Homo sapiens: one gene and its partners. The protein of the gene in region 1 purifies or fractionates together with the protein of each later gene. This does not show direct contact. Each region holds a gene or a part of one and is shown in the gene's direction. Other genes may lie near its edges.

Evidence for each region.
Region 2: the proteins of EXOSC7 (region 1) and USP30 purify together in Homo sapiens (affinity purification with mass spectrometry; 3 studies listed by BioGRID and IntAct, with this or other methods). This does not show direct contact.
Region 3: the proteins of EXOSC7 (region 1) and LRRFIP2 fractionate together in Homo sapiens (co-fractionation; one large-scale study listed by BioGRID). This does not show direct contact.
Region 4: the proteins of EXOSC7 (region 1) and DDX46 fractionate together in Homo sapiens (co-fractionation; one large-scale study listed by BioGRID). This does not show direct contact.
Region 5: the proteins of EXOSC7 (region 1) and LUM purify together in Homo sapiens (affinity purification with mass spectrometry, with the first as the bait; one large-scale study listed by BioGRID). This does not show direct contact.
Region 6: the proteins of EXOSC7 (region 1) and PARP8 purify together in Homo sapiens (affinity purification with mass spectrometry; one large-scale study listed by BioGRID and IntAct). This does not show direct contact.
Region 7: the proteins of EXOSC7 (region 1) and RSRC1 purify together in Homo sapiens (affinity purification with mass spectrometry, with the first as the bait; one large-scale study listed by BioGRID). This does not show direct contact.

Annotation. Positions count from the first base shown.
Region 1 is NC_000003.12:45,003,744-45,007,243, forward strand, and holds part of EXOSC7 (exosome complex component RRP42), read left to right. Parts: intron 1-1,547; coding exon 1,548-1,671; intron 1,672-3,500. UniProt on the Homo sapiens protein: Non-catalytic component of the RNA exosome complex which has 3'->5' exoribonuclease activity and participates in a multitude of cellular RNA processing and degradation events.
Region 2 is NC_000012.12:109,076,576-109,080,075, forward strand, and holds part of USP30 (ubiquitin carboxyl-terminal hydrolase 30), read left to right. Parts: intron 1-3,500. UniProt on the Homo sapiens protein: Deubiquitinating enzyme tethered to the mitochondrial outer membrane that acts as a key inhibitor of mitophagy by counteracting the action of parkin (PRKN): hydrolyzes ubiquitin attached by parkin on target proteins, such as RHOT1/MIRO1 and TOMM20, thereby blocking parkin's ability to drive mitophagy.
Region 3 is NC_000003.12:37,059,583-37,063,082, reverse strand, and holds part of LRRFIP2 (leucine-rich repeat flightless-interacting protein 2), read left to right. Parts: intron 1-3,500. UniProt on the Homo sapiens protein: May function as activator of the canonical Wnt signaling pathway, in association with DVL3, upstream of CTNNB1/beta-catenin.
Region 4 is NC_000005.10:134,828,200-134,831,621, forward strand, and holds the end of DDX46 (probable ATP-dependent RNA helicase DDX46), read left to right. Parts: intron 1-459; coding exon 460-507; 3' UTR 508-2,922; downstream 2,923-3,422. UniProt on the Homo sapiens protein: Component of the 17S U2 SnRNP complex of the spliceosome, a large ribonucleoprotein complex that removes introns from transcribed pre-mRNAs.
Region 5 is NC_000012.12:91,105,312-91,108,494, reverse strand, and holds part of LUM (lumican precursor), read left to right. Parts: coding exon 1-377; intron 378-3,183.
Region 6 is NC_000005.10:50,841,137-50,844,636, forward strand, and holds part of PARP8 (protein mono-ADP-ribosyltransferase PARP8), read left to right. Parts: intron 1-829; coding exon 830-932; 3' UTR 933-3,500. UniProt on the Homo sapiens protein: Mono-ADP-ribosyltransferase that mediates mono-ADP-ribosylation of target proteins.
Region 7 is NC_000003.12:158,123,589-158,127,088, forward strand, and holds part of RSRC1 (serine/Arginine-related protein 53), read left to right. Parts: intron 1-277; coding exon 278-403; intron 404-3,500. UniProt on the Homo sapiens protein: Has a role in alternative splicing and transcription regulation. Involved in both constitutive and alternative pre-mRNA splicing. May have a role in the recognition of the 3' splice site during the second step of splicing.

The DNA of each region.
Region 1 (3,500 bases):
CCTTCTGTACCCCCATGCAATTACACTCACTGATGATAACCAGCATCTTAAAAGAATAGATTACTTTTGTACTTGATATAAATGGTATCATATACTATGTTCTGTTTTGTGTCTGCCTCATTCACTAAGCATTGTGTTTTGAGAGATCTGTGTTGCTGCCTTAGTCATAGCTTGCTTTTTGCTGTATGGTGTTCCATTGTGTGACTTTGTCCAGTCTGCTGTTTATCCAGTCTACTGTCCAGTCTGCTGTTGTTTATCAGTCTACTGTTGATGGCCATCTGGTTCATTTCCAGTTTGAGGCTATTACAAATAGGGATGGGCATCATGAACATTTTGTGCATGTCTTTGGTGCACATATTTCTCTATTTCTGTTAGGGAGGAGTGTTCTGGGTTATAGGGTATGGCTATCTTTAGTTACGGTAGATGCTGCCAGTTTCACAAAGTGTTTTACCAGTTAACACTTCCACCAGCAGTGTATGTAAGAGTTCCGGGTTGTTTCACATTTTTGTCAACTCTTGCTTTTTTTTTTTGAGATGGAGTCTCACTCTGTCTCCCAGGCTGGACTGCAGTGGCGTGATCTCAGTTCACTGCAACCTCCACTTCCCAGGTTCAAGCGATTCTCTTACCTCAGCCTCCCAAGTAGCTGGGATTACAGGTGTGCACCACCACACCCAGCTAATTTTTGTATTTTTAGTAGAGATGGGGTTTCACCATCTTGGCCAGGCTGGTCTCGAACTCCTGACCTCAGGTGATCCTCCCGCCTTGGCCTCTGAAAGTACTGGGATTACAGGCATGAGCCACCATGCCTGGCGTTTTTTTTTTTTTGTTTTTTTTTTTAATAGTTATTTTGGTTGTGCCTTGGTATCACAGTGTAGTTTTAATTTGCATTTTTAATAGATATTTAAATTGAGCACCTTTTCTTGGTTTATTGGCTACTCAGACAGCCTCTTTTATGAAGACATCCAAATATATTCTACGTTTGAGTCTTTTGTCCATTTTTCTGTTGGGCTGTCTTTTTTTTGTTTAATAGGAATTCTTTATGTAATCTGTCAGGTAGTATTTTATCTCCCCAGATTATATTTTTAGTTTTTAAATGATGTCTTCTGATATACAGAAGTTCATGATGTTATAATTGAATATGTAACTTTTTTCTCTTTCTGTATCCTGTTCAAGAAATAGTTGTCTACTCCAAGGTCATGCAGATGTTTTTTTCTAAATGCTTTATTGTCTTGTCTTTTATTTTTTATATCTATGGTCTATTTGGTATGGCTTCGTGTGTGTGGTGTGAGGTAGGGATTGAGATTCTTTTTTTTCCATTGGGATATCTGATTGACCCAGCATCATTTTCTAAAAGATGCCTTTCCTCATTGCACTGCGGCGCCTCCTGTGTGCTTTTGACAGGGATGACAGGGATGAGGATGATAAAGAATAGGCATAGCGTGTCTTTCTCTTGTGAGACACAGGGATTCCAACTCCTATTCTCAATCTTAAAAAGAAGTTATTTTTCCTCCTCCAAGTGGGAATTTTACTAGTGCTTCTGCTTCCAGGATACCAAGGGTTCGAGTTTTGGAGGATGAAGAGGGGTCGAAGGACATTGAATTGTCAGATGACCCTTATGACTGCATACGACTAAGTGTGGAGAATGTCCCCTGCATTGTCACTCTGTGCAAGGTATAACTTGTATTTTATGGTTTTTGTCTTCCCTGTGGGTGTGGGTCTCCTCTAATCCCAACCTGCTGAGGTTACTTAATAAGTTAAGAAGTTGTAATACCACACACCATATAGAAGTAGCTTTTACCCAAATCCAATAATTTGGTTATACTAGAAACCACTACCACGAGTAGCTCTTTCTTTTCTTTTTAATTGGAAGATATGATGTGGTCCTGGGAGCCATGAGTGTGTTTGTAGTAATAGTAGCCAGAGTTTGTTAAGCTCCTTCCACATACCATGTGCTTCACTAAAGCACCATGTCTTTTAATTACCTCAACTCTATGGGGTCTAGGGTGGTTGAGTAGTGGCAGGGTGGCGAACACTGTCCCCCCTATGAAATGGGAGGTTGGAGCAGGTCTTGGGTATCATGAGTGGTTTTCACATAGAGGGCTGTGGAGCTGAACATCAGGCTGATGTGATATATAACTAATGCTGCCCCAGGCTGTGCAAAGAGGCCTGTATTGGCTATTGACTGGGATTGTAGCTAATTCCACTCAGGATTCATTATCTCAAAATAAAGCTAAACAGGTCAGGTTTAATTCCACTGAAATCACTTCATGAACAGGATGTGGTGAAGTGTTCAGACAACAGGATGGCAGGATGTTGGGTCTTGGCTTTTTTTTTTTTTTTTTTTTTTTTTTTTTGAGACAGTCTTGCTGCAACGCCCAGGCTGGAGTGCAATGGCGCGATCTCAGCTCACTGCAACCTCCGCCTCCCAGGTTCAAGCAATTCTTCTGCCTCAGCCTCCCAAATAGCTGGGATTACAGGCACGTGCCATCATGCCTGGCTAATTTTTGTATTTTTAGTAGAGACGGTGTTTCACCATGTTGGCCAGGCTGGTCTCAAACTCCTGACCTCGGGTGATCTGCCCACCTCAGCCTCCCAAAGTGCCGGGATTACAGGCATAAGCCACCGCACCTAGCCGGCTTGTTCTTTCTTGTTGTTTATTTGTTTTTTTTTTTTTTTTTTTTTTTGAGACAGAGTCTCGCTCTGTCGCCCAGGCCGGACTGCGGACTGCAGTGGTGCAATCTCGGCTCACTGTAAGCTCCGCTTCCTGGGTTCACGCCATTCTCCTGCCTCAGCCTCCCGAGTAGCTGGGACTACAGGCGCCCGCCACCGCGCCTGGCTAATTTTTTGTATTTTTAGTAGAGACGGGGTTTCACCTTGTTAGCCAGGATGGTCTCGATCTCCTGACCTCATGATCTGCCCGCCTCGGCCTCCCAAAGTGCTGGGATTACAGGCGTGAGCCACCGCGCCCGGCCTTGTTTTGAGACAGTGTTGCTCTGTTGCCCAGGCTGGAGTGCAGTAGCACAATCTAGGCTCACTGCAACCTCTGCTGCAACCCCCCCACCCGCCCCGGCTCAACCTCAAGCAACCCTTCCACCTCAGCCTCCCAAGTAGCTGGTACCACAGGCTCACACCACCATATCTGGCTATTTTTTTGTATTTTTGGTGGAGACAGGGTCTTGCCATGTTGCCTGGGCTGGTCTCAAACTCCTGAGCTCAAGCATTCCATTTTCCTCAGCTTCCCAAAGTGCTGGGAGGCATGAGCCGCTGCGCCCAGCCTTTGGCTTGTTCTTGAGTGTGTCCCTTAGCATGGACCCTCTTGATTCCCCCTTGCCATCAGTGAAACGTCCATGTGGCCTTGTGTGTGAATTTCTCCCTTGTGCCCCTCTGTTGGAAAGCCTTGGTGGCCTTTGTCTTGGTTGGTCTCTGAATTCTAGTTTTAAACCACCTTGCCCTGTTTTTCCATATCGTGTTTTTATTGTACCACCCACACAGTGGCCTGT
Region 2 (3,500 bases), on another chromosome or scaffold:
TTTATCATACTGACAAACTTCCCTTCTGTTCCTAGTTTGCTGAGAATTTTTGTAATGAATAGTGATTGGATTTTGTCAGTTTTTTCTGCATCCATTGAAATGATCATATTTTAGTCTTATTCTGTTGACTTGGTGAATTACAGTGATTGATTTTTTCTTTTTTTTTTTTTTTTTGAGACGGAGTCTTGCTCTGTCGCCCAGGCTGGAGTGCAGTGGCGTGATCTCGGCTCACTGCAAGCTCCACCTCCCAGGTTCACGCCATTCTCCTGCCTCAGCCTCCCGAGTAGCTGGGACTACAGGCGCCCGCCACCACGCCCGGCTAATTTTTTGTATTTTTTAGTAGAGACAGGGTTTCACCGTGTTAGCCAGGATGGTCTCGATCTCCTGACCTCGTGATCCGCCTGCCTCAGCCTCTCAAAGTGCTGGGATTACAGGCATGAGCCACTGTGCCCAGCCAGTGATTGATTTTTCTAATGTTAAACCAACCTTTCTGGGATAAACCCCACTTGATCATGATGCTTTATTGTTTTTATATATTATTGAATTTGATTTGCTAATATTTCCTAAAGGATATTAGTATCTGTGTTTATGAGGAATATTGTTCTTACACTTTTCTTCTCTTGTGATGTCTTTGTCAGGCTTTGTTATAAGGATTATACTAGCCTCATAAAATAGGCTGGAAAATGTTCCTTCCTCTGTTTACTGAAAGATTTTGTTTAATATTGGTATTATTTCTTGCTTGTTTGCTAAAATTTGTCTTTTCTTTAGCTCTATTTCTGCTAATTTTTTTTAAACTTTGTTATTGGATACAAGCATATGTATTATGATGAGTTAACTCATCTTGTCATGATAAATTGTCCCTCTTCATCTCTGCTAAGACTCCTTGACTTGAAGTCTATTTGAATGATTCATTTTTAATCTAGCTAATGTTTATTTGGTCATTTCTTTCTGTCATTTTCGGCCTTTGTATTTAAAGTGTGACTTTGTGGACAGCATATAATGGGTCTTGCTTTTTTAACTAGCTTGACAATCTTTTAGTTGGAATGCTTAGTCCATTTACATTTAATGTAAGTATTGATGTGATTAGATTTAGGTCTGCCATTTTACCATTTGTTTTCTGTTTGTCTTACATATTTTCTTGTTCCTCTGTTCCCCCTTCACTGGCTTCTTTCAGGTTAATGGAATACTTTTTAGTATTCCATTTTAATACCTTTGTTGGCCTTTTAGCTTTACTCTTGTGTGTTTGTGTTGGGGGGGGAGGGTGTGTGTGAGAGATTACGTTATGCAGTTTTACCTTATCACATTCTATTTAGAGTTAATATTATACTTCATGTAAAATCCTGGAATATTACAAAAGTATAGTTCTGTTACCCCAGCCTTTGTGCTATTATACATACATTATAAACCTCACAATACTGTGTCATAGTTTTTGCTTTAAAGAGTTATATGTGTTTCATTTCATTTCCTTTGGATATATACCTGGAAGTGGTATTGCTAGTTCATACAGTAGTTCTGTTCTTAACTTTTTGAGGAACCTCCTCCGTACAATTTTCCATAATAGCTGCACCAGCCAGGTGCTGTGGCTCACGTCTGTAATCCCAGCACTTTGGAAGGCTGAGACGAGTGGATCACGAGGTCAGGAGTTCAAGACCAGCATGGCCAACATGGTGAAACCCCGTCTCTACTAAAATTACAAAAATTAGCTGGGCCTGGTGGCGGGCGTCTGTAATCCCAGCTACTCGGGAGGCTGAGGCAGGAGAATGGCTTGAACCCAGGAGGCCGATGTTGTGGTGAGCCGAGATCACGCCACTGCACTTCAGTCTGGGCGACAGAGTGAGACTGAGTCTCAAAAAAAAAAAAAAATAGCTGCACCAGTTTACATTCCCACCAGTAGTATGCAAGAGTTGCCTTCTCTTAAGAGGCTGAGGCAGGAGAATTGCTTGAACCTGGGAGGCAGAGGTTGCAGTGAGCCGAGATCACACCACTGCATGCCAGCCTGGGCGACAAAGCGAGACTCCATCTCAAAAAAAAAAAAAAGAGTTGCCTTCTCTTCTACTAATTAATTAATAGAAAAATATGTTTACCATTTTTCTTGTTCTCAGTCTTTCTTGTAGATCAAAATCCATTTGATGTTTTTTCCCTTTTGGCCTAAAAACTTCCTTTTAACATTTGTTATAGGTGTACTGCTGACAGATACACTTAGATTTCATGTATATGAAAATGTTTTTGTCTTGCCTTCATTTTTGAAGAATACTACTGCTGGATATAGAACTTTGGGTTGACAGTGTTGCCGTGGTTTTGCTTTGGTTTATTTTAAATTCATCACTTTAAGGACATTGTTCTATTGTCTTCTGGCCTCCATTTTCTCAGTTAGTGTCATTTATATCATTCTTGTCTATGTAAATTGTCATTTGTTTTTCTTCTGCTTACACTGCTTACAAAATTTTCTCTTTATTTTTGTTCATGCTGCGCATAGATGTGGTTTTCTTAGTATTTATCTTATTTATCTTGTTTGGGGTTTGCTGAGTTTCTTAAATTTGTACTTTTTTTAACCAAGTTTGAAAATTCTTGGCTGTTATTTTTTCAACAAAGATTTTATGCCCATTTTTCACTTGTTATTTTACTTAATGTTGGCCCACAGGTCACTGAGGTCTTGTTCAATTTTCTTCAATCTTTCTTCTGTGTGTTCTTTAAATTAGATCATTTCTATTGACTTATCTTCACGTTCACTGATTCTTTTTTCTCTTTTTTTCTTTTCTTTTTCTTTTTTTTTTTCTTTTTTTTTTTTTTTTTTTTTTTTTTTTGTGACAGGGGTCTTAGCTCTGTCACCGAGGCTGGATTGCAATAATGTGATCATAGCTCACTGCAGCCTCAACCTCCCAGGCTCAAGTTATCCTCCCACCTTAGCCCCCTGAGCAGCTGGGACTACAGGTGTGTGCCACCACACCCAGCTAATTTTTTTTTATTTTTTGTAGAGACAGGGTCTCACTGTGTTGCTCAGGTTGGTCCTGAACTCCTGGGCTCAAGTGATCCTTACACTTCAGCCTCCCAAAGTGTTGGGATTACAGGTGTGAGCCACCATACCTGGCCTGATTCTTTTTTCATCTCCAATCTCTGTTTGCCTATGCAACAAATTTTTCATCGTAATCACTGTTGTTTTTAGTTATAGAATTTCCATTGCCTTCTTTTTAATAGTTTCCATTGTTCTGAGATTCTCAATTTGTTCATTCACTGTCACTGTATATTTTCCTTTACATCCTTGAGCATATTTATGATACATCTGTGAGGTCCTCGTGTGCTGACTTCTTTGTATTTTATGTTTGGTAATTTTTTATTGTATGCTTAACATCATAATAGAGACATAGAGAGTAGGGATTCTGTTACATATCTATGAAGAAAAATTAATTTTCTTCTGGCCTGCAGTTAACCTGGCTGGGCTCAAACTCAACTCTGTCTCCCCTACATTGGGCAGCAAAATCTCTGCTCAGTTTTTTTAGCTT
Region 3 (3,500 bases), 7.9 Mb from region 1:
CCAAGAGTAGATTAATCCCACTCAGTATTTTCAGATGCATCTGGTGTTATTTCAGTTCCAGTTTGTTGAATCTTGGTGCATCTGACTTGTCCCTTTCTAAACTAGTGACTTGCCCTCTCGGTACATAGATGTGGTCACCCTTCATTGGCATCTGGAGATTTTCTTTGCATGTGATTTAGGTTGGGTTCCCTTTTTCCGGTGTCTCATGCCTTTCTCCTTATTTATTCTCTTATTTTGGTACATCTTCCAGTAGCTTCCTGAGAAGAGGGTTTGTGGATTGTTAATTTTTCATGACCTTGCAGGCCTGAAGATGTCTTCATTCTACCCTCTCACTTGATTAAAATAGTTTGGCTGGGTAGAGAATCCTGAGTTGCCATGGTTCTCCTTAAGATTTTTTAAAAGGACATTTCTTCATTGTGCTGTGACTTCGAGCATGGCTGTTGAGTTTTCATGAACATTTTGAGTTCTGATCTTTTCTGATTTGTGATCTATTTTTCTCCTCTTTGTGGAAGCTTGTATCCTATTCTCTTTCTCTCTAGCATTCTGGTGTAATTTGAAGATAGTCATGTGATTTGAAGTTTTCATGTGTGATGCTGGGCCCCTGTCAATTCTAGGAGCTCCCATCCTTTAGTTCTGGGAAAATTTCTTGAATGATTTTGTTACTGATTTTTTTCCCCTCCCATATGCTGTGTTCTCTATTTTGGAACTCCTATTCAGTCATTCAACAAATGTTGAGTGAGATTCTACTATTTAACATGCACTATTCTAGGCACTGGGATATTTCAGTGAATAAATTAGTTTAGAAAAAAAAAATTCCTGCCTGAGAGGCATTCTAGTAGGAAGACATCAGACAATATTATATGATATGTTAGAAGGTTTGTGTGAATGCATTTATTATATGTGTTTCTCTGGCTACTTACAGCAGCATAGGGGCAGGCATGGAGTGGGTAGAGAGCTAGATTTTACTAGGACAGTATTAATGGGGCAGGAGAGGTGAGGGAGTATGTAAGAAAATGATTATAATGATGGACCTTGAAATTAAACTGGATGAAGAGGATTCGGGAGATATTCAGGAACACATCAAGGTATAGTAGAAAGAAGATGTAATCTGTAGATTAGTGGTACCAGTGTGGTTGAAGGGTTGTTGGAATTCGGGTCTAGAGAGAATGACCTGGAAAGATGAGGAATAGTGGTTAGAGAGAGGATACATGGAACTAAATTGTGTAGGGATTACAATTGTCTAATGATGAGATCTGGTATATGACTGTGGGAGTGAGTAGCTGAGGGCAAGAAGGGATAGATAGCAAGATCCTTGGAAGGGAGGTGGGTTAGTCCATTTTTTGCTTCGCTATAAAGGAATACCTGAGGCTGGGTAATTTATAAAGAAAAGATGTTTGACTGGGCACAGCAGCTCATGCCTGTAATCCCAGCACTTTTGGAGGCTGAGGCAGGTGGTTGAGGTCAGGAGTTGAGACCAGCCTGGCCAACATGGTGAAACCCCAACTCTACTAAAAATATACAAAAATTAGCCGGGCATGGTGGTGGGTGCCTGTAGTCCCAGCTACTTGGGAAGCTGAGGCAGGAGGGAGGTGGAGGCTGCAGTGAGCCAAGATTGCGCCACTGCACTCCAGCCTTGGGTGGCAGAGTGAGACTTTGTCTCAAAAAAAAAAAAAAGGAAAAAAGAAAAAGAAAAAGAAAAGAGGTTTAAACTGGCTCATGGTTCTGCAAGCTGTAGAGGAAGTATGTTGTCAGCATCTGCTCAGCTTCTGAGCTCAGTTTCCTGAGGCCTCAGGCCAGGCTGGTCTTGAACTCCTGACCTTAGGTGATCCACCCACCTCGTCCTCCCAAAGTGCTGGGATTACAGGCATGAGCCACCGCGCCCAGCCAGCCTCAGGAAACTTCTCATCACGGCGGAAGGTGAAGGGGCAGCAGGCACGTCATATCTCGAGCGGAAGCCAGAGAGAGTGGGGAGGTAACATACACTCTTAAACAACCAGATCTTGTGTGAACTACCAGAGCGAGAACTCACTCATCACCAAGGGAATGGTGCAAAGCTATTCATGAGGGATCTGCCCCATGACCCAGATACCTCCTGCCAGGCCCCACCTTCAGCACTGGGGAATACATTTCAACATGAGATTTGGAGGGGACAGACATCCAAACCGTAAGAGGAGATATACCAGAAATTGAGAGATCATTTGTAAGGGAGATCCTCTACTTAGATGTACATTGAAATTGCCAAAAATTAAGACAGGAATAGTCTAGAGGGAGTGCAAGTTGGGAGCTATTTAATAAATGGTGATGAAGGAATGGGATTTTGGCAATGATAAGTAGTTAGTGTATATAATTTGAAGAGACGAGATTAAGACCTGGGACTTTTAGGGAAGATGGAGGGAAAATACCAGCAAGGAAAGCAAGAGGACACCTATTCCATTTCTAGATTCAGTGGTAGGAAGCTGTGGAAGTACAAAAAAAAAAAGGGCCGGGCATGGTGGCTCATGTCTGTAATCCCAGCACTTGGGGAGGCCAAGGTGGGTGGATGACTTGAGGTCAGGAGTTCAAGACCAGCCTGGCCAACATGACGAAACCCCATCTACTAAAAATACAAAAATTGGACGTGGTGGCATGCACCTGGAATCCCAGCTACTCGGGGGGCTGAGGCAGGAAAATCGCTTGAACCCGGGAGGCGGAGGTTGCAGTGAGCTGAGATCATGCCACTGCACTCCAGTCTGGGCCACAGAGCGAGACCCTGTCTCAAACAAACAAACAAAACAAAACAAAACAAAACAAAAACAGTGTTTGAGAGAGCTGCAGAAGCAGCAGGAGAGGGTTATCAGAGCACGAGGGTAAAGGGGGGATGCTCAGAAAAGACTGAGGACAGAGGGTGTTTGCTGATGATGGACTGATAATTCTAGAGGGCCCAGTGGAAAAGTTTCAGGCATTGGGAAAGGTTAGGAGATGAAGGTTAGTGGTCGTACAGACCCTTGTGAGGAAGACTGCAGAGGAAGGATATGACCCTTTGTGAGATGCACATAAATAGGAATGATGGAGATACTGAGATTTGTCCTGGTTCCCTCAAGGCAGCTAATGATGGTGACCCTGTGTGTTGAAAGGGCAGAGGTGCCTGGGAAGTATAGAGTTAGTCCCAATATAGAGCTTACCCTTTTCCCATTGGGGAGTGGCAAACTTAATCTTAGTGCAGAGGCCTCCCTTTGACCCCTGTTGGTGGAGTTAAGGACAGCTGGGGAAGCCATCTCTATGTATCCAATTATTATTATTATTATTTTTTTTTTTTTTGAGACAGAGTCTCGCTCTGTCACCAGGCTGGAGTGCAGTGATGTGATCTCCACTCACTGCAACCTCCACCTACCAGGTTCAAATGATTCTCCTGCCTCAGCCTCTGGAGTAGTTGGGACTACATGCGCGTGCCACCATGCCCCACTAATTTTTGTAGTTTTAGTAGAGATGGGGTTTCACCATGTTGGCCAGGATGGCCTCGA
Region 4 (3,422 bases), on another chromosome or scaffold:
TAATTCTGAGAGCTTTTCTAAAATTCCCCTCACAGAGCATTCCTTTTTTTGTTGGGGGGTGGGGGTGGTTAGAAGTTTAATGAAAAGTGGGTTCACAAAACAAGAGGGAAAAAGTAAAACAGCTGTTAAATCATGTGCTTAATACTATTTCACCAAGGAGTGGTCGAAAAGAATCTTGTGCCCATAGATGCTACCACCATTAGGTTGATTCAAAACATAGTTGTTAAGGAATAGTTGAGTGAACAGAGAATTCATTAGTTATTGAATAGTTTTTCCTTTCTCAATGCAGTAATAGTAACATTTAAAATTTTAAATAACCAATAGTTTTATAAGTTGGCAAAGGAAATGATCTTAAATATTTCCTTTTGGGTTTGTTTGGTTGGTTGGTTGGTTCGTTTTTTTTTTTTGTTTTTTTTGTTTTGCTTTCTCTGATGACATATCTTTTATTTCCTATTACAGCAAAATTCATACCAACCAACAAATAAAGGAAGATACAAAGTCTTATAGACATCCGGAAAAAAGATTTTTACCTGTGCTGGTCTATGATGTATGTGGCAGTTGCTGTCTGCAGTTTACAATGTATTGTAAATGAAGATTTTTTAAATTCTATCTTGCTGATTTTTTTTAAATATAAGAAACTGGTACTTGGTAAAGAAATCTGTCCGTAAGTACCCCCACAATCAGTCAAACTATATTTAAAGCCAGCCTGTTTTCAGAGTATGATGTCCTTTAATGTAAACTCAAATATCAATATTTTAAATGTCCGGATAATATTCTAGAGGTTTAAAAAATGGAAATATTTGAACTTTCTATTGAAGACAATAAAGTACACAAGTCGTTAAGGGGCTATTCACTTTATCCTGTACTTTCAATGAAATTGTGATCATTTCCTAAGAAAAGGTAAAATTCACTATCATATTTTGTGTCCCCACCTTGATGTTACATGACTCTGGAACAATATGAACTGGATTTAAGAATGTTATAATAGAAGTCTTACAAAATGGGTTGAGAGTTTTTGTTTCAATTTTTATCATCATAAATGGGCAAAAAGTAGTTGGACTAATTTCGGTTTTTATACAAGTAAAGATTTAATAGTATAAGGATTTTTTTGCATTTCTTTACACTGAGTGTAAAACTCTACAAAGAGTTATAGTATTTACTACTTTGAGGTTTCCCTCACAACTTCTGGCTCCATACCTAGCCCCTCTTTTATAATCTTCCTTAAAAGAAAGAGTGTAGCCTATAAATACTAAATATGATACCTTTTCCTTCTAGAAAGTGTTTATTTATATATCTATACATGTTGTATGTACAAATATCCTACTACTTTTAATCTGATTTTTCTTCAGGATTATTGAGTAGGTTGTGAATTTTCTTTCTTAAAAATTGTAAAACATAATGGTACCCAAGTTTTAAACTTAGATGTGCTTCATCTTAGTGAAATTTAATTCACAAGGAATCATAAATTGTGTTTTTGAGGCTGGGCGCAGTGACTCACACCTGTATCCCAGCAATTTGGGAGGCCGAGGTGGGCAGATCACTTGAGGTCAGGAGTTCAAGACTAGCCTGGTCAACATGGTGAAACCCTGTCTCTACTAAAAATACAAAAATTAGTCGGCATGGTGGTGGGTGGCTGTAATCCCAGCTACTCAGGAGGCTGAGGCAGAAGAATCTGAGCCAAGATAACACCATTGCACTCCAGCCTGGGCGACAGAGTGAGACTATCTCAAAAATAAATAAATAAATAAATAAATAGTATTTTTGAGCCTTCAAGATACAGTTCCTGAATATTCTAATTTAAATTGTTATAATTGGATTACCTAATATTCTTTTCAAGACTCCTGATGTATTAACTTCATGTTATTGTCACTTTTCAAAAAAGGAATTTTTTTCAGGAGTTAAATAAAGTCAGTCTTTTATATCCAAGGGTTTCAAACCCACAGATTAAACCAACCACAGATCAAAAATAGAAAAAAAAAAAAAAAGAAAAAAAGAATGTAAAATTTTAAAAATACAGTTTAACAGCTGTAAAAGTTTTACTATAACATTTACATTGTGTTAGGTATTTTAAGTAATTTAAAGGTTACAGTATACAGGCGGTTAAAGTATACAGGAGGATGTGCATCGGTTATATGCATATAGCAAGCCATTTCATATAAGAGGCTTGAACATCCATGGATTTTGGTATAGAGGAGGGGTTTAAGGGGTGTCCTGCAATCAGTCCCCCTCTCATACCAAAGGATGACTGTATATTTCTTAAATGAAGAGACTTTCATTCTTTAAATATTATTGACTTACAGTTTAAAAATAAATAAATAAAAGCATACTATAGTTGTAAAAACAAATAATTTTAATAGTATATTCAGTGGCTGAAGTGATAGGGAGTATTAATCATTATTTCTTCAGTATAAAGTTATTCTTCCTGAAAAAGTAAGATATACCTGGGAAATATTCTTGGATCCTTCACACATCCACTTAATTTCTTGAAGGAAGAAAACAGACAAAAGACATGTAACAACAGAAACAAATAAACCACTTACTGTAAAATTTCAGAAATTGTGGGCTCATTCCCTCCCTCTAGTTTATTTATTTGCTCATCTTTATCACCTAATGGTAGTTTGTTTTCTTTGGTAGAGTATATGGCAGTCCCACATCGATGATAATTGGTGCTCCCTTCATCCAACTGGATCACTTTGAGATTCAGTTTTACATCATTTTAGCATTTTGTTTGTATATCAGTTGTGATGAGCCACTGATAAAATTTTGTTCTAAAATGAAACATATTACTTTGTTAGTACATTTTTTAGTGTCACACTGACTTTTAAAATTTGAATGATATATAGACTTTGTTTTTTTAATGCAATATGAATATTTGCTCATGTTTTCTAAATTCCTTATAAAATAAAATTAATTCGAATTCAATCTGCACTTTCTTAAAATTATCTTTCCTCAATGCTTTTTCTTTCTTCTGTTTCTCTAATTTTGTTTATGTTGGTGAGAGAAGTATTATACTCTCTATTTTTATTTAAAAAATTCTAGCAACTTATTACCCAAAATATTTATAATTCTGTTCCAAAAATGTCTTCCTGAAGAAGGCTCTTAAGTCTTTTATGTTCATTGTATTTAGCATAAGAGAAACATAGGTGAAATAATAGGTTCATTTACCAGTTGGGGTTTTGCCACAGTGACACTCTTACAAAATGGATATGTAGGCTGGGTGCGGTGGCTCATGCCTGTAATCCCAGCACTTTGGGAGGCTGAGGCAGGCAGATCACCTGGGGTCAGGAGCTCAGGACCAGTCTGACCAACACGGAGAGACCCAGTCTCTACTAAAAATACAAAATTAGCCAGGTGTGGTGGCACATGCCTGTAATCCCAGCTACTCGGGAGGCTGAGGCAGGCGAATCGCTTGAACCCGGGAG
Region 5 (3,183 bases), on another chromosome or scaffold:
CTTCATCCATCTCCAGCACAATCGGCTGAAAGAGGATGCTGTTTCAGCTGCTTTTAAAGGTCTTAAATCACTCGAATACCTTGACTTGAGCTTCAATCAGATAGCCAGACTGCCTTCTGGTCTCCCTGTCTCTCTTCTAACTCTCTACTTAGACAACAATAAGATCAGCAACATCCCTGATGAGTATTTCAAGCGTTTTAATGCATTGCAGTATCTGCGTTTATCTCACAACGAACTGGCTGATAGTGGAATACCTGGAAATTCTTTCAATGTGTCATCCCTGGTTGAGCTGGATCTGTCCTATAACAAGCTTAAAAACATACCAACTGTCAATGAAAACCTTGAAAACTATTACCTGGAGGTCAATCAACTTGAGAGTAAGTAAAAAGCTGTTCCTGTGTTTGATGTGTGCTCAAGTGTTTAAATACCTGGGCTGCACAACACAGATATTGCATCTGGCTCCATTAAAAAAACAAAATGTCGCCCGGGCGCTGTGGCTCATTCCTGTAAATCCAGCATTTTGGGAGGCCGAAGTGGGCGGATCACCAGGTCAGGAGTTGAGACCAGCCTGGCCAACATGATGAAACCCCATCTCTACTAAAAATACAAAAATTAGCCAGGCGTGGTGTCGCACTTCTGTAATCCCAGCTACTCAGGAGGCTGAGCCAGGAGAATTGCTTGAACCTGGGAGATAGAGGTTGCAGTGAGCCGAGATCGTGCCACTGTACTCAAGCCTGGGCAAGACAGCCAGATTCTGTCTTGGAAAAAAAAAAAATGTCCACAAAATATCCCTCTACTTCAAACAAAGAATAATTCTAGCTCAATCATATATCCAATATCCAGCCTTTCTTTGGTGTATCCAGATAAGGAACAATTAAGGTCACAGAATTTAATATGTAAGTCTTCAAACTAAAAATTCCGGGCCAACTCATCCTGCTGTGTTACCTCCTCATATATATCTCTTATTATTTTCTCCTTTATGGCTTAGATTTGTGTCCTACATTTATTTTTTGACAAGATCTAGATGAGGGAGGAAGAAATGAGTTCAAAAGTGGCACAGTTGGCAAACTCCATAGCCACAAAGAAGCCCATATTGTCCCTCCCTCCCTCCCTCTCTCTCTCTTTTTCTTTCTTCCTTCCTTTCTTTCCCTTTCTTTCTTTCTTTCTTTCTTTCTTTCTTTCTTTCTTTCTTTCTTTCTTTCTTTCTCTTTCTTTCTTTCTTTCTTTCTTTCTTTCTTTCTTTCTTTCTTTCTTTCCTTTCTTTCTTTCTTCTTTCTCTCTTTCTTTCTTTCTTTTTCTTTCCTTCTTTCTTTCTTTCGTTTTCTTTCTTTCTTTCTTTCTTTTTTTTTTTGACAGGGTCTCACTCTGTCGCCCAGACTGGAGTGAGGTGGTGCAATCTCGGCTCATTGCAACCTCCACCCCCCAGGCTCAGGCGATTCTCCCACCTCAGGCCACCACCACCACCAGGCTAATTTTTATGTTTTTAGTAGAGATGGGGTTTCACCATGTTAACCAGGCTGTTCTTAAAATCCTGACCTCAACTGATCCATCTGCCTTGGCCTCCCAAAGTACTGGGATTACAGGCGTGAGCCACTGTGCCTGGCCCCATATAGTCTCATGGTCTTCCCTGACATCAACTACTTGGGACTCACCATGTTACTCTGCTGTCATGATCATCATCTGCCTCTGTTATCTCTGTTATGGTGTGTGGCCATCACAGTGCTCTGGAGGACTGTGAAGAAGATTAAAGAGAAAAAGAAATATGATGGGAGATTCTAACATCTTTTTTTTTTTTTTTTTTTTTAGAAGAAAAATAGTGTTACAGAGCTTTTTTTTTCTTGGGTACAATCCTGCCCCTCATTTGATATTTCCACACTTTCTCTTTCTCCTCTCTTTATTTTTCATTTATCTTCTGGATGAAGTTTGATCTGATGCATTTGGACTGCTTATGCACTTATGTGGTCTTCAGGGACATTCTTCAACTTAAGCAGTATAGATTCCAATGGGAAATTGAAATCCACCATTTCCTACCAGGATAACTCTGCCATTAATCTTTGGCAGAGCTTGGTAGAAGAGAAAAACCATGATTCACAGATAAGGCTTTCTAAATGAAAAAATCAAGCAGGAAACATTGATTCACATATAAAGTAATAATGTCTGCAAAATAATCTATTGAATTTGAACATCTCTACATGATGAAAATTGGTTTTCTGGCCATGCTGAATAAAGGTATTGCTGTCAGAAAATATTACAATATATTTTATGCATATGATGTTTGTTAATTCTGCCAGTTTCATATAACCTCTAGTAGGGTTAAACGTTTTCATAAAGAAGACCATACTCGCCAACTCTGAAGCTCCACATGTTCTTTGTTGTTTCTGAAAAGCAGCCAAGGTAAGGGTTGGTGCTGTTTGACTGTCACACAATACACAGTCAGGCTAACACAGCTAAACCCCTCTTGTTGTTTCCAGTGGAAAATTCACTATGTGGCCATATGTGATTCCTCATTTTAAACATATGTGGTTAGGAGGAAGGATACTCTCTGACAGACCAAAATGCTAAAGGAATTTACGATGCTTAAGGGATGACGGAGTACATTAGATTTGGTGGGTAGAGATTATTCGTAAGAGCAGGGCTACTTCTTTCTCTGAAACAAAGAAGGATACAGAAGTAGGCACATTTGAAGGTATACATTGCATGAGTAAAGGATGGAAGAGAGGTCTATGGGAGAAAGGCCAACGGCCTGTCAGTGCCAAGCTGAGATAGAAACCACAGTGCCCAGTACATAGTGGTCATTTGAAAAGGTAACATAATAGTTTCCTTTCTTTCTTCCTTATCTTTGTACATTTAGTCAGGTATTCTCCTTGTCTTTTTATGTATCACCTCAGTTTAGGTTATTTTGCCAGATAATAATCAACTATATCAACATTTCACATTCACTTAATACAGAAAGTTCCCCTCAATGTTTTTTTCTAATATTAGGGAATATATAGCCAAAACAAACTGTTTTCTATTTCAAACTTGCAACTCTAAGCATTAGCCCAATCAGAGATCTTCCTAGTGTAGAGTAATTTAGAAAGACAGCAAAATCAAAAGGATATTAGTCATTATTTAGGACATACTATGTACTAGTATTGTGTGAAGTGCTCTACACAACTTAATTTAATCTTCATGCAACACGGT
Region 6 (3,500 bases), on another chromosome or scaffold:
TTCAAGTAATTACCACTTTTCTAAAGCTTCTGTCTTGAAGCCATTTTTATGAAGTAAAATTAATTTGTCACTTGTTCCCCTCTGAATATGATCATGAAAGCTTGAAAATTCATTCTTAAGAAATTCTTATTGCCCAAGTAACTGTATTTGAGAAAAATGAATTACCATCTAAAATGTAACTATTTCTTTTTAAAGAACTTAGTAATTGCTGTTCTTTAGTATTATATTTTCCCTTCTACTGATAAAGTAAACTTAGCAGGCTTGCATTCTTTTATGAACTGCCAGAATAAATAAGAATATGTTACAGTCAGACTAAATAGTGCGACCAGTGATAAGAAAAAAGGGCAGCACTGATTATGGCTGAATAATTATTAGAAGGCAGGCATGGCAAAGAAGCAGTGGTAGAAAGTGAAGTGTCTTCAGTCAGAAAATAAAGAAATGATCGAAGTAGGAGTAGAATTAAGAAGTCCAGAATCTTAGCAACATAAAGTTGAAGCTGTTATATTTTTTTATAGTAGACTTCGTAGCAGCTGCTATGGGAAATGCCTGCAAGGCCAAAGACACTGAGAAGCTTCTTGCAACTCAGACAGTCTTTTATGCGGGGATAAAAAAAAAAAATGGAAGAAAGGGGAAAATTTAGGCATGACATAGAATGGGCTGTTCTGTGTTTCGCAATGAGAACACATTGTTAAATACACCTGAAAAACAACCGTATAATTTGCTTTTGATTCTCTTGGGCTATATTTTAGGTATCAAATAGCATTTCTAAGCTGTTTTAAATGCTGCCATCTTTTAAAATGTTTTTATATTTTTATGTTTTGTATTTCAGCTATGAAGACGGCCAAGTGGGAGATGCAAATATTAATACACAAGAAGGAGGCATTCACAAAGAGATCCTCCGAGTAATTGGTAATCAAACTGCTACTGGTTAAAGGACCACCATTTAATTAACATGATTCGAAAGCCTTCCTCGGGTTCAAAGCTGGATTTTGAACTGAAGAAGATTATAAAATTATTTATTGTTATTATAAACAAAATTAACCCTTTGAATACTGATTTTTTTTCTTAGTATTTCTAAGTATCTCATTAAATACCTAAAATGGTATAAGATTTATCAATTGTAGGGTTATGGAATCTAGTAATAAAATTTCAACAGCACTTAAACTGAAGTTTGGGTTGCTCATACAATAAACAGATTGAAAAAACTGTTTTGTGCTGATATTTTTATACTAAACTCTTTAACTGGATATTTGGTATTATATACCGACATTTTAGGTTACCAAAATAGAATTGAGAACATTTTATAATGGCATCTAAATCTATCAGATACTTTGCAATAAGTATACTGTTTGCACATTCTGATGTGCTATATCATTAGTAGTATGGGCATTCTAATGTTTTGGAAGGGGTGTTCCCTATTCTATTTTTCTTCATAAAAAAAGAAGTAGGTCTTAGAAGCAGTGCTTTGCCAAAAAGTATGTAATATACACATCTATACATTCATGCATCAAAATGTGTGGTTGTGAATATATTTGTGTATATTCACACGTATGTTTTGACAAGAAAGATGGCTTAGCTTCACAATTCTATCCTCGTTTAATGGAAAGAAGATAATATTTAGTAAGCAATAAATTTGGACATAAATCAAGATATGAGCCAGATTTACCACCATTCATTCACTGAAAATATTTGCAGACAATTTTTCTGTTTGTCTGAAGAAATTCAGCCCTTTTAAAATGTTATCTAAAAGTCATAATTTGGGGAACATACATGGCCTGGTAGACCGAATCTATATTCAAATGATTATGTATTTAAAAGAAAGACCTCAGAATTTAAAGAAACCATATATATTTTTTATTTACTACAAAAAAATTATACAATTTTATTTATGCCACACCAGCATTTTTATATTTGTTCATCTAATATCTCTGCTTATTTTTTTCATATTGAGAAAGAACACAAACTTGATGCTTCTTTTATATTAAAAGACCACAAATAAGTTTATAGAGAACAGTAACACCAGCTCTCAGCATTTCCTTTTCAAGAGTCATAATTTCATCAAAATCATTTCTTATTCTTTGAGTCCTAGAGTTCTTATTCATCAAGTTTTAATTGACAGTGTTTATTTTCCCACATGTTGTCTTTGGAATAAGGCCATTCATGAAAGCAGTTTAATTAGTGAGTCTGCCACTCTATTCAAACCCTGAATCAAGGCTCTATCTGATTTTAATTTATGTAAAAAAAAATAAAAATGTATAGTCATTTGCAAGTATAATGTGATAACTGCTGTGTTTATTTCCTTTGTCTGGCATAAAAGGTGAGAAAAAGGTCATACATGTTGTTAAGGGTAGCAGTTTAGGAAGTGTTTTCTAATAATTTGTTTTGTTATATTGCAAATAATTGATATGCCACTTATTTCTGCAAGAAAAATAGGCTTGAAGTGGTTGGGATATTAATCATTTTGATAGTATCTACTTAAAGCATTGATCTGTTTTGACTTGTGGCTCTGAACCCTGGGCTAGGCTGAGGGATAATAGTAGTGGAGTAGGGCAAAGATATAATATCCTATCCAGTGTTTTGTGACCACTTATTTGAAGATTAGTGTGGGACATGAGGACCTTGCTACTTTTTTGCCAAGATGCTGCAAGTCTCCCAAATCACTTCAACTGTGTTTTTAAAACATGTTTAAGCAACAGAATTATTTTTTTGAAATTAGTCTATACGTTAGACAGTCTATACATGACAAACATGAAGATCTAATATCAAGATTTGGGAGACGGGATCTTGGAACTCCACCTGTTTGACCACTAGGACCACTGAGGCACCTCCAATAAGCTCTGTAGAGTGCCTCCAGCATAATTCAAAATCCACTGACCTAATCCATTATGGCTTTACTTAACATTGGAGTGATCCGTAAAGAATATAGTATTGGAGTCTGAACTGGAACGGTAACTCGTAAGACTCAAGAAAGACCGTTTAAGGAAAATTGGCATAATACAAACTGTTCCTGTTGACTTAAGAATAACAGTAGGTTCACCTATCTGAGGAAATTAAGTAGTTGATAGTTTAATGCTAGGCATCTTTTATGATAATAAAGTAAGATGTCTTCTTATGACAGTTAATTGAGTTGTATCATGATACAGAATGACAGATTTTGTTTCAAACAATTGCGTCAGAACCTTTGTAAGCAAATATTCTAAGGAGAATCAATCTTATTTTTTAATTGAACTTTTTGAAATTAGGGATACTATAATAACTGATAAAGATGAATTTCTGTGTTTCTAAAGAATCTAATTTCAATTACTACCATTAACATATAAATGTGCTTCCAAAATCCAAGCAGGTCCATACAATTTAGAGATTTGAACACTGTTATCATGCTTTAATTCAGTCATTCATTAAAATATTATCTATTCACTTATTTGATGATTCCAAACATTTGATATTGTATTGTGTTTTTATAATTATTTGAAATCTGTTCACCAATGCTTTGTAATGGT
Region 7 (3,500 bases), about 110 Mb from region 1:
AGCCTGGCCTTGGTTTAGTTTTCATACCATATAATCTGATGATATTTGGAAAGATTCTAAGACCCTTAATACCTTAATTAGTACTGATCCAATCACTAAGTTATGAACCAGTCATATGACTGTTCAAGAGAAATAACATTTTAATTTATCTCTGTTTGCTTCCAGGAAACAGTGAGACAGTAAAAATCAGATGATTCTTTAGAATCTAGAAGGTTTTTCCTTAATGCTCATAATAAAAATTTTTATAGCAGTGATCTTTGATTATATTTTATTTCAGACGCAGGCATCGATCAAGCAGTAGCTCTTCTTATGGCTCCAGAAGGAAACGAAGTCGAAGTCGTTCAAGGGGTCGAGGGAAATCCTATAGAGTTCAGAGGTCTAGGTCAAAAAGCAGAACAAGAAGGTATGCCTTATTAAGTATTTATTGCTTTGTAACAAATTATTCCCAAATTCAGCGATGTAAAGCAACAATCATTTATTTTCTTATAATTATATAATTTTGATTGAGCTTAGCTGGCACTTATTTTTTTCTCACCTGGGGTCATTCATGCAGTTAGTCATCTGATAGCTTGATTGGAACTGGATGGTCTAATGTGGCCTCACTCATATATCTTGCATTTGGTTCTGGCTATTGGCCGGGGTGTACGTGGCTTCTCATTGTCCAGTAGGCTAGATTGGGTTTCTTTTTTTCAGCCCGGTGGTGGTAGCACGTGCGTTCCCCAGACATGAGTTTACTAGTATTTTGTTAAGGATTTTTGCGTCAGTATTCATCAGGGACTTATGGCTTGCAGTTTTCTTGTAATATATTTGTCTGGCATTGGTATCAGAGTAATGCTGGCCTGATAAAATGAGTTTGGAAGTACTCCCTCCTTTTCAGTTTTTTTGGAAGATTTTGAAAAGGATTGACATTAATTTCTTTTTAAATGTTTGGTGGAATTCTGCAGTGAAGCTATCTGCTCCTGGGCTTTTCTTTGTTAGAAGGTTTTTGCTTACTGATTCAATCTCCTTGTTAGTTATACGTCTGTTAAGATTTTCTCTTCCTTCATGATTCAGTCTTGGTAGGTGGTATGTTTCTAGGAATTTATCCACTTTTTCTAGGTTATCCAGTTTATTAGCATTCTTAGTAGTCTTTTATAATCCTTTCAATGTTTGTGGCATCAACTGTAATGTCTGCTGTTTCATTTCTGATTTTAGTTATTACGCTTCTGGTATTTTTTCTTTTTCTTTCTTTCTTTTTTTTTTTTTTTGGAGGTGAGGTGTTGCTCTGTCACCTAGGCTTGGGTGTATTGGTGCAGTCAGCTCACTGCAGCCTCAAACTCCTGGGCTCAATGATCTTCTCACCTCAGTCTCCTAAGTGGCTAGAAATACAAGCATACACCACCAGGCCTGGCTGACTTTTTAAAATATGTTTTGTAGAAATCAGTCTTACCATATTGCCCAGGCTAGTCTCCAACTCCTGGTGTCAACTGGTCCTCCCACCTTATCCTTCCAAAGTGCTGGCATTATAGGTATGATCTACCTTGCCCGGCCTCATTTTTTCTTAATCTAACTAAGTACTTGTTAATTTTGTTGTTGTTTTTCAAAAAACTCTTAGTTTTGTTGATTTTTTTCTAAAGTCTTTCTGTTCTCTATTTTATTTATTTTTTTCTCTAATCATTTTTATTTTCTTTCTTTGGATAATTTTTGGTTTAATTTGTTCTTTATTTAGTTCCTTGAAGTATTAAGTATGATATGAGACTTTTCTTTTTTTCTTAAATGTAGGTGTTCATGCTAAAACTTTCCTTTCAGTATTGCTTTTGCTGTTTCTCTTAAGTTTTACTATGTGTGTTTGTGTTTTCATTTGTTTAAAGGTATTTTCTAATTTCTCTTATGATTTCTTCTTTGGTGTATTTGGTTGTTCAAGAGTGTGTAGTTTAATTTCTACATATTTGTGGATTTTCTGATTTTTCTACTGCTATTGATGTCTAGTTTCATTTCTTTGTGTTTCGAAAAGATACTTGCTATGATTTCGGTCTTATTAAATTTGTTAAGACTTGTTTTGTGGCCTAACATGAAATCTGTCGTGGAGAATGTTCCATGTACACTTGAGAAGAATGCATATTTTGCTGCTGTTGTGTGGAGTGTTCTGTGTATTTATGTTAGGTCTAATTCATCTGTAGTGTTGTTCAGGTCCTCTTATGTCTTATTTTTCTGTCCATTATTGAAAGTGGATTATTGAAATACCCTACTATTACTATGTTACTAAATACTTCTCCCTTCCATTCTGGCAATGTTTACTTTATATATTTGAGTGCTCTGGTGTTAGGTGCATATATATATAATTGTTATATATTCCAGAATAATGACCCATTTATCATTATATAATTTTCTTTTTTTCTTGTGACAGTCTTTGACTTAAAGTCTATTTTGTCTTGTGTAAGTATGGCCACTTCTGCTCTTTTTTTGTACCATTTGTATGGATTATCTTTTTCATCTTTTTCAGTATATGTGTGTCTTTACATCTAAGGCACATCTTTTGTAAACAGCATATACTGTAATTGTATTTTGTGTGTATGAGTGTGTGTTTTGAAAAATTCATTCAGCTACTTTTGTGTGTTTTGTTTGGGGAGTTTAATCCAGTTACATTTACAATAATTACTGATGGGGAAGGACTTACTGTTGCCATTTTGTTGATTGTTTTCTGCCTTATAGCTATTTTGTCTCTCATGTCTCCTGCTGCCTTCCTTTTTGTTTTGTTGATTTTTGTATTGACATGCTATGATTTTTTTTCTGATTTTATTTTGTATATGTTCTATAGGTATTTTCTTTGTGGTTGCCATGAGGCTTACACAAAACATTGTCTTTTAAGTTGGTAATAACCTTTGACTTTATACAAAAATACTGCTCTTGTATGTTTCTCCACTTCTATTTTATGTTATTGATATCACAGTTTACATCTTATTGTATCCATTAATATAGCTTATAGTTAGTTATTTTTTATACTGTCATCTTTTCAATTCTATATCTGAATTAAAAATGTTTTACATACCACCATTACAGTGTTAGTGTACTCTGTACTTGTGTATATATTTACCTTTACCAGTGAGCTTTATGTTTTCATGTACTTTTGTGTTGCTGTCTAGTGTCATTTCATTTCCACTTGCAGGACTCCTCTTAGTATTTCTTGTAAGGCAGGTCTGGTAGTGAAGAACTCCCTTAGCTTTTGTTTATCTGGGAAAGATTTGATTTGTCTTTTGTTCTTGTAGAACAATTTTGCTTGATATAGTGTTCTTGATTGACAGGGTTTTTTTTGTTTTTGTTTTTGTTTTTGTTTTTGTTTTTGTTTTTGTTTTTTGCTTTCAGCACTTTGAATATATCACCTGATTCCTTTCTGGCTTGTAATGTTTCCTCTGCAAAATTGCTGAAATCTTATGAAAGCTCCCTTGTGTATGACGATTTACTTTTCTCTTGCTGCTTTCAAGATTCTCTCTTTGCCTTTAACTTTTGTTAATTAGATTATA